Regions from separate parts of the Homo sapiens genome. Here region 2 is linked to region 1. The links come from fine-mapping of genetic effects on gene expression. A gene starts in region 1. The other region holds a variant in brackets. All regions are shown on one strand. Distances are from middle to middle.

The links. PIP is the estimated chance that this variant, and not a neighbour inherited with it, causes the effect.
Region 2: its variant is the best candidate, but not a certain one, in a credible set for the expression of ATP6V1D in lung (TOPMed, PIP 0.57).

What each region holds. Positions count from the first base shown.
Region 1 is chr14:67,354,933-67,365,750 of GRCh38, reverse strand. It overlaps ATP6V1D (ATPase H+ transporting V1 subunit D), which reads left to right and starts at 5,947. Exons shown (of 9, transcript NM_015994.4): 1 at 5,947-6,093. The coding sequence starts at 6,053. It overlaps EIF2S1 (eukaryotic translation initiation factor 2 subunit alpha), which reads right to left and starts at 5,423. Exons shown (of 8, transcript NM_004094.5): 1 at 5,295-5,423; 2 at 743-984. The coding sequence starts at 983. It also overlaps a transcript of GPHN not described here. RefSeq lists enhancers at 5,168-5,967, 5,988-6,207, 6,050-6,836.
Region 2 is chr14:67,329,009-67,339,826 of GRCh38, reverse strand. PALS1 (protein associated with LIN7 1, MAGUK p55 family member) reads right to left here. Exons shown (of 15, transcript NM_022474.4): 15 at 3,766-7,047. The coding sequence ends at 6,871. ATP6V1D (ATPase H+ transporting V1 subunit D) reads left to right here. Exons shown (of 9, transcript NM_015994.4): 9 at 1,065-1,955. The coding sequence ends at 1,206. It also overlaps a transcript of GPHN not described here. Among named protein-coding and RNA genes, the nearest start is that of ATP6V1D, 25 kb to the left of the region's middle. The variant A/G (reference allele first, on the strand shown) is at 4,828.

The DNA.
Region 1 (10,818 bases):
AAGCCTTTCGGACATGATGGTAACTAATGACCTAAAACTAACACCTAACAAATTATAGTAAGATGGCTGAAACTAAAACCTACGTAATGGTATTGTACACCATGTTTAAAAAAAGAGTATTCACAAAGGTGATGATTTACATGGGGCCCAGAAAAGGCATCCAATAAGTAAAAAATGAATGCTCATCCAAAACTGTCTGAAAGATACCACGAGATCTGGTAGATGCAAACATTCTAATTACCAGCAAGATATACAATGTTGGATTTCAGGTGTGTATATACACGCATAGTATATTGCTTTTTCAAAGCTTATATAAAAGATCCCTAAAATCCATTTGCCCCATTTTCATGCTTACCCAGTGATCTCATTACTATTTTAGCTTTAAATCAAGAAAAAGGCATCCAACATATTCAGGCCTACCAATGTAAATGAACTAGTACTCTGACTTACCTGTCTCTAAGTTTGGTTACCATGAGTCAATTATCAAGATCCTGATAAACACTAGAAATAAAATTCAAGTTATCTGATCCATAAAATCCTAGGATGTACTAATTAAACTACTATTAAGAGATCTTGCTTAGATAGCTAATTGGCATCCTTTTCTAACAACTTTGTATGTAAAAGGTTTAAGTATAAAAGGAGCTTTTTTTTTTAAGCTGCAGCTTGCAATTTACAAAAAATGTATTTTTAAATAAACCATTTTAAATCTGAAATTTATATTACAGATATTTTTCTCACTTACCTTTTTCTTTGTCCACCCTAATGACAACCACACACTCATTCCTGCCAATTCGGATGAGTTTGTTGATAGAACGGATACGCCTTCTGGATAATTCACTAAGAAGAATCATGCCTTCAATGTTGTTGTATTCCAGCAAGCTGACATAAGCCCCCATTTCAGCAATGGATCTGACATTCACCATCACTACATCTTCCACCTCAGGAAATTTGTGTTGATAAAATCTACAACTTAGACCCGGCATTCTGCAATTTAAACAAAAGAATTAAGTAAGTATTCAGTTAAGGTGAAAATAAAAAAAAAATCAATTTCCACATCCTGCCACTGAAAGAAAAGATGAAGAAAAAAATAGTTATTAGTCTTAGTCTTCTCATCCTTTGAAACTTCTTAAGTGGTACCAGAAAACAGATAATGTTCAGGAACCAAGCTTTAATTTTTATTTTGCTCAACATTTTTGTAATGCTTGGGTGATTCTCTGCCTTTAGTTTCAGAGGAATCATAAAAAATAATGACCATCTATAAAGTACTCCAAGACCTAAGGATTAAAGGAATACCTCAAGAGTAAAATACTACTTTAAGGCATATCAAATGATGGGAAGCATCACTATTATAACTAATCAGAAAACTAAAGCTACTCTTTGCCGAAGTGAGCAAACATTGTATACGCTACCACTCACTATATAAAGGAAAAAATTTTCTACCTAAACCCTAACCAATATACCAAATGATACATTCTGTCATTTATTATAGCCAAAATTACAGTGTCACATGTCAAAACAACAAAAACTAAAAAAATTTTAATCACAAAATAAACTAAAATGCATCCTCCTCTCATAATTCTTTTTCCTTGAATTCACAATGTCTAGCTTCTCTTATCCCCAATACTCCCAAATATTCCTTTCTTTTATTGAATAGGTATACCTAATCTTGAGAATAGCTTTAATCTCCATTACTACAAAGTTCAAGTTTCTCTTAACCTCCAAGCATTAAAGATATTTACAATTATTCCCTTTGATCCACCCAACCTACTTTCAGCACTACTCCTTTTATGATCCACAAGCCTGAAATCATAGCCTGGGTAGAAGCATATTTAAAAAAGGAAGCTCTCAAACTAATCATGGCTGATGATTTTCATGTTTTTCTGTTAACCTTCACTGTTGTCACTGCTCAAAACGTAGGTAGTAACAGAACTTAAAGGCCTAAGAAAACCTTGTGAAAATTCATATAATAACTTATTAATTGGCACCTGCCTATATCTTCTCAGTGGCTTCCCACTGACTTATGTATCTTTCCACTACCTACAGAATCCTATATGATCTGGCCATTGCCTATCTCCTTGTGGTACAACTTTCTCCCTAGTTCTCCCCATTTTATAGATTAAAAAACTGAAGCACAGGTTAAGTTACTTGTTCTTTCACATACTGCTAACAGGTGATGAGTCAGGATTTGAATCCATGAAGTCTGGATCCAGAGTCTGTCCTCTTATCAGTAAGACTATATTCTCTCAAAACTATTCATAAATATATTATAATTAGAAACATTTTACTTAAAAAGCAACATTAATATATATTCAGTGCCAGAGTACATAACACCAATAAGTGCAAACTATTAGTACTCATCTGTTTGACAACAAAGAGCAGCATATTAATGACAGTAGCAGAGATGTATTTCTTTGTAGGGAATACAAAATCCCTACAAAATAGGGATTTAGCAAATAAAGAGAAGTAGACATTCAATGGCCTTACCCACCAAGAAACAGCTGACTGTTTGTTTCGTTTTTAAACAGGGCTTTTCGAGGGTGGGGGTGGGGAAACTGTTGTTGAATATGTGTATGTAAAGCTCTCAAATTTGAGAGCTAAAAAGTTTCAAATTGGGCATAAAAATAAACTATGTTACAGAAATGTATGGAACAGTTGCAAGACATTTGACCAGTGAAAACCACATTTACTTACCAAGCTTCTCCAAACAGTAAAGGTGATGCTTTTAGGGGAAGCAAGGCTTAATTTGATGGTTAAAAAACATGGGCAATCATGTAAGAGAATCCTGAAGGGATATGACTATGAATACTATTTCTTCAGGAGGCACAAGTCTCTTTGCAACATAAAGGGTAAGTAAAGGAATACTGTTGATGGTATGTTATTCATAGTAAAGATAGATAGTAGTTAAGTACAAAAAGAATCCATACCACAAAAACCTGCATATTGGTTGACAATTTTTGAACATATTGCCTAATGAAATGCTAATAACTTAAATTTTTTTTTTAACTTAAAAAAATCATTCCGCAATATCGAAGTCACACTAGGTGACTTCACCTCTTTATCTTTTTCACAGCATTCTTATTTTATTTGGTCCTCAAGAAGTGTCAAATCAGGCAATTAACATAGTAAACTCGGGGAACAACTCTAGCCTTGTGTTCCAGTCCTTGCTCTGCTACTTACTAGAAGTGGCTGCTTGGGAAAGATAACATCCTTTGAACTGTAGTTTCTCATCTGTGCCATGTACATCACAGGTTTACTGAGGGTATCACATGTATACGTAAAAACATTTTGAAAACCATTATGTGCTAGTCAAACATAAAATATTGAAAGAAAAAGAAGGTATTTCCATTTTGTAATATAATAATTTGTTAATTTTTTTTTCAGTAGCTACTATGTACTAAGCACTAATGATACAACAAGAAAGACTCTTACCAGGCCAGGCGCAGTGGCTCACACCTGTAATCCCAGCACTTTGGGAGGCCGAGGCGGGTGGATCACTTGAAACCAGGAGTTCGAGGCCAGCCTGGTCAACATGGTGAAACCCCATTTCTACTAAAAATACCAAAATTAGCTGGGTGTGGTGGCAGGCACCTGTAATCCCACTACTATAGTGGCTGAGGCAGGAGAATCCCTTGAACCCAGGGGCAGAGGCTACAGTGAGCTGAGATCGTGCCACTACACTCCAGCCTGGGCAACAGAGACTCTGTCTCAAAAAAAAAAAGAAAAAAGAAAAAAGAAAAAAAAAAAAGACTCTTACCTAAGTAATTAAGTATAGAGTGGGAAACAAACTAGCAAGCAAATAATTACAATACAAAGTACTATGAAAGGGCACAGTGAAGCAATGAACAGGAAAGGTGGAACAGAAATACTAAATTATAATACTTCCTTAAGAACAAATGCTTAATAAGTACTAGCGTAGGAGCTAAACTCAAGTAATCCGACATCAAATCCAGAATGTCTTTAACCCACAGAACCTCAATATCACAACATGCTATAATACTCTTATGTGTTCTGATGTAAAAAGTATCAGCCACCTTTCAAAATATATCAACCAAACTCCAGGCTAATTTCAAATACCCTGCATAGTCAGTTATTTTGCATGACAAATGGTAGGTAGGACTTCTTTCTCAAAACAGTGCATGGTCAAACTGCTATAATGGATATAGAAGTTCACATTCCTTTCCAAAATATATTATGTGATGGGGACAACTCTCGTGATAATTCTAATTTGGATCTAACACGTATTAGGAATGCTCTCTGAATGCTAGTTCTTGGTATAGGAGTGCTACATAAGTAAAGCTTTTATTTCATCATTATAGTTGAAAAAGAAAGTTATCACCGAATCTCTACAAACATTACTGTGCATGAGACAACTACATCTTTTGGCACCAGATGAACTAAGAATAGGTAGCAAAGTTCTGTACAAGTCACCCCCAAACTATTGACAGAGATTGTTCCTTGAATAACAACTCAATTGAGGGGAAATAAAGACTTCTCTGCTATACTTTTTCTCGAAGAAACCATGTTTTTTGCTTAATAAAAATTTAAAAAGCCTAAGTTTTGAGGATAAAGAGACCTCAGCATGACTGTGTATTTAACCCGAAAATATATCCTTATCTTAGGTTTTAGTTATGCTTAACTAACATAGTTAACCTAACATATGCTTAACACAGTTCTATTCTCATTGTCGCCAAAATACGACAAACTGATAGTAACAGTAATAAACTCAAGTCTCATTTAGTTTTGGTTCAAGGGGTGACTCATTCAATTATCAGATGAAAAACTACTCGGACCCCGCTCTTTCCAACACGGTGCCCGTCCCACAGGTTTCTCAGGTAAGAGGCCAGTTTGGTTTCCACTGAGACGCAGGGGAAATTTTTGGTAGAGCTGTTGGGGCGGAAGAAAAGATGGAATTCTCAAGCCTGGAAAAAGCAAAGTGCTCAGCGTCCTGAGCCGGGGTTAAGAGTTACGGTGTCACAGCGTTCTCCTGAGACCGCCCCATCGTCATGGCATTCTCACTTTCGGCATATTGTAGAGGCTGTACAATCCACTCGGCCCACTTTCCTTCACGAGATTCCTCTGCTCGAACAACGATGCCTCTGGAACACAGGATGACCTACACGGAGCCGGCGAGGAGGCCCACGACAGCGCGGGTGGTGGCGGTGCTGTCCAGCCACTTCCCGCGCAGGGACGGGAAAGGGAGGTATTAGCCCGGGGCCTACCCGCTCTCGAACACCCATGTCACTGGACACAAACCAAAGTGAGTTCCTGGAGAAACCGAGCTTGGGATTAGTCACCTGAGGTATGTGTGTGATTCCCGCACTGGAGCCCAGAGCCGACTTCTTCAATCACAGAGACCAGACTTGCTTCCCCCTCACCGGCCGCCGATCCTCCTCAGCGTGCGCTTCGCTCACTCCACCGCGCATGCGGAACCTCCTCGCATGCGCAAGCGCTGAACGAATAGAGGCCCCTCTTCATCATTAACCATAGAGTCTGGGTCCTCCGAGAACAAGGACGAATGTAGATCATGGAAGGACCTGAAAAGTACTGTTTCTCGCTATCTTAGCTTTAGCTAAGTAACCTTCAAGGCGCGAGAAAGACATAGGACTCCGATTCCTTGCCTCTGAAGAATGAATCCTCTTTCAAAGTTTCAGCTAACCATGAGATGGCGCTGTGACCAAAGACGAAAGGTGGAGAAAGACAAGGCGTGCACGCTTCGCTCCTAGTCTTTGGCCTGGCGCGTGCCGCGTATTGCGCAGCCGCAGGGAAGCTGGATGGGGAGGGGTTGGGAGGCGAACCGGAATTGAGGGGTGGTTCCGCGGTGCGCGCGCCTCGACATCCGGGCAACGCCTCTGTTCTGTCCTCCCCCTTCGTCGCCTGTGACAACCGGAAGCGGAAGTGAAAATGGGTGTCCCTGCTGCCTCTTAGCAACAAGAGGGGTCAAGTGACACAACCAGCTGACTCCCGTAGAGGAAGACACTGTGGAGGCCAGTTCTGGAGCTATTGCAGCCTCGGTTGCCCGGCCGGGGACCCGAGCCGAAAAGTTATCGTCAGAATGTCGGGCAAAGACCGAATTGAAATCTTTCCCTCGCGAATGTAAGTAAAGGAATGGGATAAGCCGCTTTCACAGGTTTAGGAACCCGGAGCGCGGTCCCTTCAGACCCTGGGCCACAGTGAGGGTCCTTGTTTCCTGGGAGGATCCTGAGCTTTTCCCAGGTTCTTTTCTTGAGTCTAGGGCGAGGCTTCCTGACGGCCTCTTCGCGCATTCCTCCTGAGTGAATCAGGCTGGACGAAGCGATCCCAGCCGGTAGGAAAAGGCGCCCGGCCGGCGGGCTTTTGTGGAGGTCTGCTGTCTTTATTCATTAATGGATTCATCCATTCCACATACCCTTATTGAGCCGGGCACTGGATTTATATAACTGAACCGTCGCCACCTCTGCCCTACAGAGCTCACAGTTTACGTAGCCAGACATTCGTCTGGAAAGGCCAAGGAGGTTTTAATAAATGCTCTGAGAAGGGAAGTTTACTGAGGATATAGAAGAGGTCCCTAAGCCAAAGTGGGGATGGAATCGAATCGCCCTAGCATAGCCCTCGGATTCGATCTTGGATCCCCTTACTCATTTTCCAAGATCCCGCCAAATGTCACCTGCTGTGAGAGGATATCCCTGTGTTTCTGAGGCACTGCTTTTGCTCTCTCACCGCTGCACCTTGTTCAGACCTGTGTTAATACCGGTCATCACGCTGTAAAGTAGATATTTGTTTATGTGTCTTTCTCTCCCACTAGACTGTGGGCTCTCTCCAGGATGAAAGAGTGTCTTAATCCATAGAAGGTCCACAAAAAAATATTTCTTGAAAGAACTCATGCTTGGGAATACGCTCAGTTGTGGGCTGCCTTTCTTTTGGGGCCTGAATTCTTTGTCAGGAAAATGGCATATCACTGTAGGTGTTTGGCTAGTTTGTAAGGAAAATTTTGACGTTTTCTCAAATGTGCCTAACAACTTGCTCCCTTTCTCCTCCTCATCCTGTTTATTTTTATTTAGTTTGTTGTTTGTTTGTTTTAATAAGAGACAGGGTCTCCCAGGCTGGGGTGCAGTGGTATGATCAGAGCTCACAGCAGCCTCAAACCCCTGGGCTCAAGTGATCCTCCGGCCTCAGCCTCCCTGGCGGCTGAGATTATAGATGGGAGCCACCGCGCCTGGCTTTCCCTTTTTCTTTTCAGTGAGGAAGCAGAAAATCAGTTTTGACCCTGACATTTAGACCCTTTTATTGTGGTCCTATCTCTGTGGGGGTGTTTTGTTGTTTTTCCTCATTCTGTCCTTTGAGAGAATCTGAGGATGCTTAAAATAAAAGTTATATTCAAACCTGAAGCCCAGATTTCTTTCTGCCCGGTGACTAAATAGCTCTTAATGAAATGAAGTTTTTAAATTTTTTACCTTCACCTGTTGACTTTCTAATAGCTGTTTGCACTAAGTAGGCAGCAAGCTAGTTGTGGGGAAATAAAGATGAGGACTATCCCGAGGTAGTGACAACTGCAGAACTCCTAGGACGTGATGACTCAGTCAAAACTTCTGCACTGAAAGACATCGACACTAGTTTATCTTCTAGCAATGTAAGGCCTGCCCCTAGGGTGACCCCAGGCCGCCCCCCGCCGCCCCCGCCATTAAAATGCCTGCCTGAAAAAGCTCAAAGCTAGGGGGAGAATTTACTGTTTGTTCTAGTCAACACCTAATTGATAGACCCCTCTCGTTCCCTTTTTAGAGCATTTACGAAACAGGCTTACAATTGTTAATATGTATCTCTTCCAACTCTGAAGTGTCCCTTCAAGTATCTTTGAGAGCCATTTCTTTGAAACGTAATCATCAGGAGGGATAGGGGCTTTGTCTCCCAGTCTGTGTGAGAGGATAGAATAGTAACTTACTAATTGCCAGGTAGTATGGCGTTTACACTGACCAACACTTTAAGGTTTCTCTTCTCTGACTCTTCTTGCGGCTGGCTCCCTGCCACTCCCTTACTCTCTTTTTTAAAATGGCCAGTCACCTCTGCACAAATGAGAATTGAGCTCAGCCCTTTCCCCTACTATCAGTGGTTTACTGAATAAAATCTGTTTTCACTACTTTAACGAATGTCTGGCTGGGTTTATCTTTGACAGCAGTCAGAATAACTTTTTTGTTTTTACTTTGAAACTTTTACTTTGAGACTAAGAGGCAAAAATAGACATCTTTGGGCTTAGGTAAGAAAATGATAGGCTCATGAAGGTGAAACTACTATTTGAAAGCTCTCAGCTTGCTGATTGAGAGGAAAATCAGGTGCAGGAAATAATCTCTTCTCTAAATATTTTCCCCATGGCTGGCAGCAGGCTTTTTGTCATGTAGTCAGATGTCTTTGATTCAGCTGGAAGAAAAGTCATCATCCTAGCTAAAGGTCAAACTTTTTGAGTAGGACTGAGCAGCTCTGAAACATGTAAAGGAGCAAGTTTTAAAAGCCATAGGCTAGAAAATATACTGGCAGCTTGTTTCACAGACATTTCCATTCAACAGTATTATTCTGTGATGTTACTTTCACCCACTTTCGTACCAGAGAAAGCAAAAACAATTGTAGAGTGGAAGTAAAAGACGCATGAAAAATTTGGAGTCAACAGAAGTCCACTAAATCCAGGTTCTGCTACATATTAGCTGTAAGTGTGCACGCTGCTCTTAGAGTTTCAGGAATTAAAATTGCCCATTTCACAAAGATGCCATTCCCTAGGAGGAAAATAAAATTAACATGGTAAATTCAATTTTATCAACCAGTTTACCTTTTACTATAAACTGGCTGGAATATGCAGTACTACAATTTGACTTAAATTTGATCCAGCTCTTTGAGCCCAAGTTCTAGTATTTACTATCAACAATACATTATGTTAAATGCACACATTGAGATGGATAGCTCCTTCTCAGGCTGGAAACTAAACGACCTTCACTTGATAAGACCTCTTGTGAGACCAGTCAGTGCAGAGTCAGCCAGTGATAATTGTTCTCTTTAAGGGGAGGCACATGTTTGGGGTACAGTGAACGTAGGTTGGAGCCTTAGTTTGAGCATTGGGAAAGTCAGTGGAATCAAAAGTCTGGTTCAAGTCCCTGCCCTGCCTTTTCTTCACTGAGTAACTTTGAGAAAGTTGTTTTACTTTTCTAAGCCTCATTTTTCTAATCTTTAAGTTAATGTCTAAAGTCCCTTTCAGCTATAGAATTGTCTTAGTGATCTTAGCCCTATGGTAAAAGATTCCAGTATAATTTAAGAATTTGGCCAAATGGTGTTTGTTTGTTTTTGTTTTTTTTTTTTTGTTTTTGTTTTTTTGAGGCAGGTTTTCCCTCTGTTGCCCAGGCTGGAGTGCAGTGACCCGATCTTGGCTCACTGCAACCTCTGCCTGCCAGGTTCAAGTGATTTTTGTGCCTCAGACTCCTGAGTAGCTGGGACCACAGGGATGCAGCACCATACCCAGCTAATTTTTGTATTTTTTGGTAGAGATGGGGTTTCACTATGTTGGCCAGGGTGGTCTCGAACTCCTGACCTCAAGTTATCCACCTGCCTCGGCCTCCCAAAGTGTTGGTATTACAGGTGTGAGCCACTGCACCTGGCCAAAAAAGTTTATTAGTACATGCGATTTTAAAACACCAGTCATATGAAATTATATCCCCTTAAATCACTGTGTCTAGGTTATACTGTGTCTAGGTTATACAACCTTATTGTTGAATTTTATTACCCAAACACTTGTTTTTTTGAGACCGAGTCTTGCTCTGTTGTCCAGGCTGCAGTGCAGTGGCATGATCACAGCTCACTGCCTCAACCTCCTGGGCTCAATCAGTCCTCTCACCTTAGCCTTCTTTGTATATGGGATTACCGGTGTGCCCTACCATGCCCAGGTAATTTTGATATTTTTTTTTTTTTGTAGAGACAGGGTTTCACCTTGTTTCCCAGGCTGGTCTTGAACTCAAGCAATCTACCCACCTTAGCCTCCCAAAGTGCTGATTATAGACATAAGCCACTGTACCACTTACCTTATTTAGAGCATTCTTCCTAAGGTCCTCCAGGTACTTTTCATTAGCTCTTTTTCCTGCCTGAAATACTCTTTCCCCGGAACTTATAACTGGCTCCTTTGGCTGTTCTAGTCTCTTAAGAGAGGCTGTTCCTGATCACCCAATCTAAAGTGAACACCATGTTTGCTTCTGTCATAATTCCTTATTTTAATTTTATTGTAGCATGTACTACTGCATGGTATGACATTTTATTTCTAGTCTTTTTTTTTTTTTTTTTTTTTTTTTTTTTTTGAGACAGGGTCTTACTTCTACATCCTCGAACTGGGCTCCACTTTTTTCATTATTAAATTGTATCTGGCATATGGCAGCAAGAACAGAAATGTCAGTTTCTGCTTGACTTTGGTATTGGGGCTTCTGATGGGGAAAAAAATTGAAACAAGGAAGTGAGGAGACTTCAGTGTAAATTTAGCTTGTCATTTCTCAGGAATCTTACGTATGTCATTTGTTACCTAGTCTTTTACAAATTAATAAAATGATTGCTGTTAGGATCTTGATTGATGATATCAAAACATGTTAATACCACACTTTTAATAGAAAATGTGGTAAATTATTGTGGTATAAAAAATGCAGGCCAGGTGCGGTGGCTCATGCCTGTAATCCTAGCACTTTGTGAGGCCGAGGTGGGCGGATCACCTGAGGTCAGGAGTTCGAGACCAGCCTGACCAACATGGAGAAACCTGTCTCTACTAAAAATAAAAAATTAGCCAGGCATGGTGACGCATGCCTGTAATCCCAGCTACTCGGGATG
Region 2 (10,818 bases), 26 kb after region 1:
GTGCCTGGCCCTTGATTATTCTTTAAAATGAAATGATGATTTAGATTGGGTGCCTCCTACATAAAAACTGAGAGAAGAAACTAGAATTCAGCTGTTATTCAACAAATATGTATTTCATGTTCAGGAGAAGGTATAAAGCACCTGGAGGCATTACCAAATAGTATATAAATCACGCCATTAGAGAATTAGCACAGCACTTGGAGAGAAATTATGCATGTCCATGAATTGGTTATGAACATTTAGAGTCAACAGGTATAAATACTAAACTGGTAGTGTACAGGGATCTGTATACTCGGTTCAGAGAAATGGGAGGTAGGTGAGGGCAGGAGTATTTAGGAAAGGCATGGGGGGTCTTAGACCTGGAGTTAGCATCTAACTATGGTCTATAATCTTAATTATCAAAGGTTAGTTTCTGTCCTTCCATGATACTCAGGGTTGTGTTGAGCCAAAATTTTAAAAAAATGCCTGAATGCTCAAAATCTGTTCCATTCGAGAATGGATTTCAAAATTTAACCTAATAAAGGCTTCTAGGCTGGGCTCGGTGGCTCATGCCTGTAATCCCAGCACTTTGGGAGGCCAAGGCGGGTGGATCACAAGGTCAGGAGTTCAAGACCAGCCTGGCCAAGATGGTGAAACCCTCCGTCTCTACTAAAAATACAAAAAATTAGCCAGGTGTGGCAGCATGCGCCTGTATTCCCAGCTACTCGGGAGGCTGAGGCAAGGAATTGCTTGAACGCAAAGGTGGAGGTTGTAGTGAGCCAAGATTGCGTGCGCCACTGCACTCCACCCTGGGCGACAGAGCAAGACTCCATCTCAAAAAAAAAAAAAAAAAAAGGCTTCTGTCTCAGGTTAAATCAGTTATTAGCTTAAAATTATGTATTTTTAGCTTAAAATTATGTTTTTTAAAAAGGATTATAAATAAATTACTGAAAATGAAATTAATAAAAGTACCAGGTTTTTTTCTAGGTATGTGTTTATTATCCTTGTTACAAAACTCAAAGAAATCAAATCTACTTAATATTGAAACAGTGTTTAAAAAATCCACCCCCACCTGTATTTTACAGGTTAAAGAAAATACAAGAGAAGAAAAAGATTCTAAAGGAAAAATCTGAGAAGGACTTGGAGCAAAGGAGAGCAGCTGGAGAGGTGTTGGAGCCTGCTAATCTTCTGGCTGAAGAGAAGGACGAGGATCTTCTATTTGAATAATCTTTCCTGTTCTGGTTCTTTGAGAAACCCTAACACTGGCTTCATTTTAATTCACAGTGTGTAGGTTTGATTTGTGTGGCTATTTATTTTTTGGCCTAAGAATTTCACTGGTTGTAAAATTTACCTAGATGTCTATTTATGGGATTACTTTTGCAGAATCATAATTTAGCAACCATTTATCATGGATGAAAGAGATCTGTAAAACCTGCCCAGGAACTTACAGAATTTACTTTGCAGAAGCGTTATCATACTCCATTTACATCTGTGTTACACGTGATCTGCTTACCAAGCATATTAGGAAATACCTCTTAGGAAGCATTAGCGGTCTCAGGCCAATTACTGTGGAGCAGCTTTCATTCCTACCCACTTGCAAACCTTGGCGCTGTTGTCTGAGATTGCTGCAGCCATTCTTGTTACCATGGTACTTCTCAAACTTTGTGAAAACCTGCACTTTTCCTTGCATGACAGGTTCCTGTCTTGTCTGTCATGGGAGCCATTCTGCCAATTTAAATGCGACTGTGGTATAAACAGTAAAATGATTTAAAAGTAAGTCATTCCGTTTTTATTAATTTACTGTTAAGTCATGTTCTCATGCTCAGATCAGTAGTGTCAGCCAGAGCTTTCTCTGCAGACATGTAGGAAGTGGGTAGCTATTTTTCCCACTCCATGTATTAGAGTTTTACAAAAAGGCTTACTTTTGAGACAACTGTTGCATTTTGGGGTACTAATAAATGATTGCCGATGAGTTATGAGGGCATTATAATACTTCCTTATTTGCTAATTAAGAAAATAACTAGTTCCTATTTTAGAGTAAGAAATAAGGTAACTTTTTACTATTTATAAGTGATAAAAACTTGCTTTCATATATGAAGATGAAGCATTTGAGTGGCCACATCAGGTGTCTGAGGTTTTTAGTACTGTTTGATTTGGCATGAGCCATCCATGGGGACTCAGTCTTTCTCGCATCCATTTCCAGGCATTTTTGACATGATTAGCCATGGAATAATGTTTAGTTCTGAAATTGTGACACTGTCTTTATTAATACTGTATTTTAATCAAGTGACATCACAGTCCAGGTAGTTTTTCTTTCTTTTTTTTTTTTTTGAAACAGAGTCTCACTCATTCTGTAGCCCAGGCTAGAGTGCAGTGGCAGCAACATCAGTTCACTGCAACGTCCGCCTCCTCAATTCAAGAGATTCTCCTGCTTCAGTCTCCCGAGTAGCTGGGATTACAGGTTTGCGCCACCATGCCCGGCTAATGTTTATATTTTTAGTGGAGATGGGGTTTCACCATGTTGGCCAGGCTGGTCTTGAACTCCTGACCTCAAGTAATCTGCCTGCCTCGGCCTCCCAAAGTGCTGGGATTACAGGCATAAGCCACCATGCCCAGCCAGTCTAGGCAGTTTTAAAGTACTAAATGATTTTGCAAGCATTTAACATCTCCTATAAGATAGCAGGTCTTAGTTATGTGCCAGGCACTGGTATTAAGTATTTTGTTTATATTACTTCATTACAACAACCATAAGAGGCACATATTATTTTAACCCCCTATTTTACAGAGGAAAAATTGGAGACACAGGAAACTTGAGTAGTCTTAAGTTAAAAAGCTAGAAAGTAGCAAATCCAGAATTTAAGTCTAAGCAGTCTACCTTCAGAATTTTTACACCCTAACTTTTCCTTTCTGTTTCATCTATATTTCAAACTTTGGGTATTTAAAGACATTGGGACTGTTCTGGAGAAGCTGATATTTAGGAAATCTGGTTGCTGCTCACAGAATAAAATCTTAGGTTCAGTGTAAATTCAGTAATGACTGGAAAACCAACAACTCAGTTCACAAGTACTTTAAAAATAGGTAACTGTTTAACATTTCGTCTTCCCAACAGCCTGCTGAACTGTAAATTCTACCATCTCCACTTTGCAGATGAGGAAATTGAGACTTTGACAAGTCAAAGAGCACAGCTGGAATGCAAGTCAAGTATGATTTGATTTAATTTGATCTTTATATTTTAAGAATTACGTACTGCCTTTCTAGGAGGCAAAAATTAGTTTGAAGTAGGGATCCAGATTAGTGGTTTTCCACATGTAGGTAAATTCAATGTAAAGCAACAAGCCAAAGGACCCTAGATTTCTCCTGTGGCTTCTTAAATACCTGGAATGTATTGGCCTTGTTAAAATACTTACAAAAGTGCAGATGACTTTATAGTTTAGCATTTGTTAAAAAGAAATCAAGAAAACAATGGACACATAATTTGTTGTGTGGAGTCAGTTATCTGAAACATAGGAGAAGAATATAGATCAGGAATAGGAATGGAAAGCTGAACTGTGGTGACAGGTGTATATATGTAAGAAACTTTTTGTTTGTTGGTGTATGATTTATGACCTTTGGGAGATGTACAGCAGAAAAAAAGGAGAAATGAAGACTGGAGAAACAAAATATGTTATATATTTGCCAATAATTCACATGCTGCCTCAGTGTCCTCAGATCCCAGGCTGCACATAAGGTCCATTTGCCTGAGTATTATTACATACCTCCTTCTCCAGAAAACTTTCAAGTTCACAGCCTTGCGTTGTCCATCTTTAATACACTTAGTTGTTGGTTTTAATAATTAAGGAAACAGGACCTACCTATACCTGTGCCAACAGGGGGCACTATCCCTCTGTAAAGAACAAATCAAAAAGTATTTTGTGTTGTAGCTGGAGGATCCAATGGTCTTGCTTTTGGCAAAAACTTGAAGAGGAGGGTGGTCTTTACATGTGTGGAAACCTTGAGTGGCCGAGCAAATAGCAAGAGAAATTGCTTAGTGGCTTTTAAAATTTGAAATATAATTTTACTTTTTATTTTTACAATACAGTGTACAGTATGACATCTCAAAATAACAGTGCAGATACAGGAAAAGAGTACAAAGGGGGATTAACAACAGATGTCAGAAGGTTACCTTTATTAAGGCTAAATCCCTGCTTTATATTTTCCACACATTCACAAAATTACATTCAAATCATTCCTTATTGATCCTTATTTCTTAGGCCATGAGAAAAGGAAGATAATCCAGACATTAGATTTTCATAGAAAGCAAATCTGGATTAGTCTAAATAATATTCTCCTTCCATTTGTTCTGACAACGAAAATTTGAGAAACAAAGTTATGCACCAACCTAAAACTTCCTTATTTGGATTTTCCAAGTACATAGCATTAGTTATTGATATCATTTCTATATTAAATGGTAAGACCTCCCCCACACTGGGGTCTCCAGTCAGAACCACAGAGGGACAGGAAATGGAATTGGCCAGAGTGGCTGTACAACTAGGTGTACAGCAAGGCTTTTTTCCATATTCTTTTGTGGAGGTCAGCAACAACTCAGTTTTCACTTTAAGGACTATGTTGAATATCAGCACATCCTCATCACTAGGATTTAGAAAAGTTTAGGACATTTCTATCTACCATTGCTGATGAGGAAGGGGAGAATGATTGATAGACTTCACTGACCTTGAAATATTTATCATCTCAGACTTCCTAAAAGTATGGCATGGCATCACCTCTGCCTTGATACAAGATCTGCTTGTTAAAGCCATGTTCCTGAATCTTGACAGCACATGGCCCTAGTGCAGGCCTAATGTCTACAGC[A/G]GGCACAAGAGCCACTCACTGACACTACCTACACCCTCACTCTAACTTAACATGAACTGCCAATAGTTTAGCTCTTGGAGTTGAAAACAGTTGTCAGTTACAATAAGCAGGATCACAAAACTCCATTGTCAACCATAGACTACACTTCATTCCTGAGACGTAAACTGGAAAACTGAAAAGATTAAGTAAGTGCTAAGTATATTCCTTAGTTTTTAATGCTAAAAATCGGTGTGACCTGTGAAATTTCCTGGCTCTAAACTGGAGTATTTCAGATCTGAAGAGACAGTAGTGTATGGCATTCCTTCCCTCAACCCAAGAATGTTATTTTCTTCCTAAGGAACATTATCTTGAAAATATTTCCACATAAAACACTCTCCAGCCAACTTAATAGGCCATGCAAATTTGAACAGAAAAAGGCGACATATAAACTGTCTACATTTGTTCAAATAAAATTATGTAGAAGAAAAAAAATCAATCAAATATGTACATGACACAAATTACTCCTTAAACATAATTGCTTATGTTAAATTAAATGATGTCAGTATTATTCCAGTGTTTAGCTCTGGGTATAGGAAATGCTGTAGCTAAAGTCACCATAAAAATAAAATCAAGGCATTCACATTTGAGGTTGTTTGTTACACATCACACTATCCTAAAGGCTTGAAAAGACTGCAAATTAAGTTTCCATGCCAATTATATACGTTGAATTTTAAAGCTACAGCTATAGAGACAGTACGAAAATCCTATTAGCTTAAATGTTTCTTTTATGATTTACCAAGCTGTTGCATTCTCGTCATAAGAGGCAGACCTTGTTAGGTTAAAAACCTATTTCTATATATTTAATACCTTTTTCTCTCCAATATTCTTTTCCTAAAATGTTCAAATGACTTTCAGGTCTTCCCTTCCTTTTGATCTTAAAGTCAACTGTCATAATATTTCCCAAGGACATATATAATTTTATTCTAATGCTAAACAAGTGTTTTCAATGACCATTTGTTGATCTATTAAATATTAATATACAGTACAGCAGCTATATTCATCAACAGAATTCCAGTTTATTACCTATATATACGTAGCACAGTCATAGGATACTGTGCTCATACATAAAAATGCAAAAACTGTCAAATGTGCTATCCTCCCATGTATACAAAAAACTATTAGCATCATGAGGAAGAAACTTTTTAAGTCAATACAGATTATAATGAACACCTGCCATTCATAAAAATGTAACATACATTCTATTATACTATGCTGATGAGGGAAGGGAAGCTAAGTGAGTAAATCAGTTGAGACGACTTAAGAAAAAAATTCAGGAAATCATAATTTAAAAAAGATCAGCATATTTTGTATACCTTTAAGTAGATTAGAGTGTGTTGAGTGTAGAGTCTGATCCACAAAGTCTGAGCAAAAAAACTGGTGCTTCTAATGGAATGTTTTTTGTTTTTTTAAGAATCAAAAGACATATAAATGAATTCAAGCCTAACAAAGTAGCTTCAACCCAAAGTGGCACCATTTTGTTTTTTATTTTTCCTTTTTAGGAAAGTATCTCTGATGACTAAATTAGTTTCCTAAGCAAATACTGCCTTGCCCAGTGCATAGAAGCACAGTCCCTCTGCTCAATATTCCCAATGAAGTCATTTAAGTGTTAATGATTTAACACTTAAGAATAATCACATCAATATTTGTGTGAGACATGGACGCTTGTGTATACAAGTTTTTCACAGAGATACAACTAAGCAGAAAGGGTTTAGGTGAAAACAAAAGGTTTTAACAGGACAAAATGGAATGCTCTGTTGAAAGCTTCCATTTAGAATCCCAAAATGAGGCAAGAACCGCTAAAGCCATGTATAGAGAATAAAGGATGCCATGCACAAACTGCCTAAGGGAACTGTCGTCTCACTAATTCAAGAGATCTAAGAACAGATCTACAGCTTATACTGCTGCCTTCCATCTTATCCTCAATCTTGCTGCAGTGTCGGGCAGTCCTCCTATTGGCAGTTTTTGCCAGATCAAGTCCAACATGCCACAGAATGGATGTTTCTTTCACCTCAGCCAAGTGGATGGTACCCACTGAGGTTCAGTATCAAGTTTGTTAATTAACCTAAGCAATTCCTGATAGGCTTTATCAAGATCGGAATTCACAATTGCCGTATCAAAGTAGTGGCCATTGTTCTGCTCCATCTCTCTTGTCTTCTCAATGATTTCTCTCAACTCTTCAGGCTGCAAACAGAAGATAAAAACTGTGAGATAATTCCTTTCCTAACCAAATAATATAGGATGAGTCAGAGATGGCCAAAGAACAAGGAGCGACCTTCATAGCTTTCCTTCTGTCTCTCCCAACCTCAGGAGCTCCTTTCCAACCCTGTCACGGCCACAATGGTTACCTTTGCTTTGGCATCTTCACGACTCATATTATGAACCATCTGGGACTCAATATATCCTGTTTTATACCACTATTTAGGTTTTCACATATTTTGTCTTATCTCACCAACAAAACTACAAGCTTCAAGAACACACACTGTTTCCCTACAAACATTTGTTTTCAAACATTCTAGACACTATAACCTCTTCCTAATAGTAACATCTGTAATATGGAGTGAACCTTTCTGGTTGGAGCAAGGACCTAAAATGCCATTTACTTTTGGCTCTAGTAAAGAGCCCTTGCCCTATACTATCTGCTGCAGAGAGTTAAAAGTATCCTACCAGAGTTTGGGAAACTATATAGAGTAGCCTACTTTAAAATACTGACTGAAGGAAAGGGCCATTTTACAAAGATAAGCAGGCAGCAAGGCTATGTGCAAAACTTATCCTGAACCCTCTAATTATCAGGCACATGGGTTCAAGAAAGTGAAACTCACCTCAAATCACCCCTGCCAATGAAGACAACTAACTTAAACTCAAGACAAAATGTCTCAGATATAAAAGTCACACATCAATACTATATTGGACCCATAGTACAAAACAATTTATATCATTCAACTGTTTGAACTTCTGTAACAGTAAGAAAACATATTAAAAATATGACAACTCTGGCTTGTCCTGAGGCAGTTTCTTGCATGACTCTCATTCTGGAATGTTGTACATCTGAATATGGCACACAGAATCCTTTGTTCCCAGCAGGGAATCTACTTCACCACTGTAACTGAACACACTGACATTTTTGCTAAAACTTATGTCTACCGTAAGCTCAAGATTATTGGAAGAACATTCTAGGACTCCACAGAGAACTGAAACTTTGTGGTATTGGAGTTGAAATGAAAATGATAAAGCCCGAATCCACCTAGTTTTTATCAAATTTAAGGCATTGTTATTCCATTTTGTGCCAAAATGGCTTATATCACTTATTTAGTACTTCATGTCTGAAGTTCTCTTTCAAATTACAATCCACGACTAAGATGAAACAAAATGTTTTAGCTCAAAATTTTTAGCTGAACTAGGCAAAACTGACAATAAGTTCATACTGCTAGATAGCCACTCTCAAGCCTTCATACTAGCAGAACAGATTCAGAGATTCAGAATGCAACTAGATAACCGGTTGGTTACATTTTGTAACGCCATCATTTTCTTAGCACAATTTTATAGAGTTAAAATTGAAAATCTGTTTTACTTCAGCACTTCTATCATTGAGTAATAAAGCACTATTAGAAATACCAATACCAGCGCAGGGGCTCCCCCGCCTGTAATCTCAGCACTTTGGGAGGCCAAGGTAGGTGGATCACATGGGGCCGGGAGCTTGAGACCAGCCTGGCCAACAGGGCAAAACCCCGTCTCTATTAAAAATACAAAAAATAGCCAGGCGTGATGGTGCACATCTGTAATCCCAGCTACTTGGGAGGCTGAGGCATGAGAATCACTTAAACCCAGGAAGCAGAGGTTGCAGTGAACCAAGATTGTGCCACTGCACTCCAGCCTGGGCGACAGAGTGAGACTCTGTCTCAAAAAAAAGAAAGAAATATCACAGGAGAAAAAAACTTAAGTAGAATAAATACAATCAGATACACCATCCTCTACACCAAAAACTGTGGAATACACATCCTAACAGGTGTGCACAGAACATTCACCAAGAAAGAACAGATGTTGGGCCATAAAATAAGGCTCAACAAATTTGAAAAGACTGACATCTTTCAGGGTCTGACCACCTGGAATTATAAATCAGTTAAAATCTTTTTCACATCTCCAAATAGGTGGAAACTATATAACATACTTCTAAATAACTCATGTGTTAAAGAGAAAAACAAGGAAGCGGGGTGCCGGGGGCTCAGGCCCATAATCCCAGCACTTTGGAAGGCTGAGGCAGGTGGATCACCTGAGGTCGGGAGTTTGGGACCAGCCTGACCAACATGGAGAAACCCCATCTCTACTAAAAATACAAAATTAGCTGGGCGTGGTGGTGCATGCCTATAATCCCAGCTACTCGGGAGGCTGAGGCAAGAGAATTGCTTGAACCCGGGAGGCAGAGGTTGCAGTGAGCAGAGATAGTGCCACTGCACTCCAGCCTGGGCAACAAGAGCGAAACCCCATCTCAAAAAAAAAAAAAAAAAAAATGAAGGGAAATTAGAAAATACTTCTAACAAAATGGTAACAAAAATACAATGCCAAAACTTACGGGATGCAACTAAAGAACTGTTTCGAGGGAAATTTATAATTTCAAATGCCTACATTTGAAAAGAAGAGTTTAAAAATTAAGCATTCATCTTGAGAAACTAAAGCAAGTGCAAATTATAGTCAAAGAAAGCATAAAAAGAAATGAATTAAATAGAAAAGAGACAATAAAGACAAATGCCCTCCAACTTATTTCTTTTGCTAAAGTGTCTGATTATTCCTTTTGATAATAATAATAATAATTATTATTATTATTATTTATTTCCTGGTTCCAGATTGTGTCTTTATTCCTCTTTCTGACAGACAGCAGAGCATTTGTCTGGCATATATTCTCTCTTACCACAATATAGATGATTTTCTGTGACTTTAACAATACATACAAGAAAAAAATCACATCTTTATGCCAATACCATTCTTTCACAATACTAGAAGAACAGATTCAGAGTACAATTACATAACTGGTTGGTTACATTTTGCATCCAGTGAGTAACACCATCATCTTCTTAGTTTCTATATCTATTTATTTATTTATTTATTTATTTATTTATTTATTTATTTATTTTTGAGACCAAGTCTTGCTGTGTTGCCCAGGCTGGAGTGCAGTAGCACGAACTCGGCCTCTTCAGTAGCCAGTACCACAGGCGTGCACCACCATGCCTGGCTAATGTTTTTTGTATTTTTAGTAGAGACAGGATTTCACTATGTTGCCCAGGCTGGTCTCGAACTCCTGGCCTCAAGTGATGCGTCCGCCGTATCTCAAAATAATAAGAGCTATTTATGACAAACCCACAGCCAATATCATACTGAATGGACAAAAACTGGAAGCATTCCCTTTGAAAACTGGCGCAAGACAGGGATGCCCTCTCTCACCACTCCTATTCAACACAGTGTTGGAAGTTCTGGCCAGGGCAATCAGGCAGGAGAAAGAAATAAAGGGTATTCAATTAGGAAAAGAGGAAGTCGAATTATCCCTGTTTGCAGATGACATGATTGTACATGTAGAAAACTCCATCGTCTCAGCCCAAAATCTCCTTAAGCTGATAAGCAACTTCAGCAAAGTCTCAGGATACAAAATCAATGTGCAGAAATCACAAGCATTCCTATACATCAATAACAGACAAAGAGAGAGCCAAATCATGAGTGAACTCCCATTCACAATTGCTACAAAGAGAATAAAATACCTAGGAATCCAACTTACAAGGGATGTGAAGGACCTCTTCAAGGAGAACTACAAACCACTGCTCAACCAAGTAAAAGAGGACCAAACAAATGGAAGAACATTCCATGCTCATGGATGGGAAGAATCAATATTGTGAAAATGGCCATACTGCCCAAGGTAATTTATAGATTCAATGCCATCCCCATCAAGCTACCAATGACTTTCTTCAC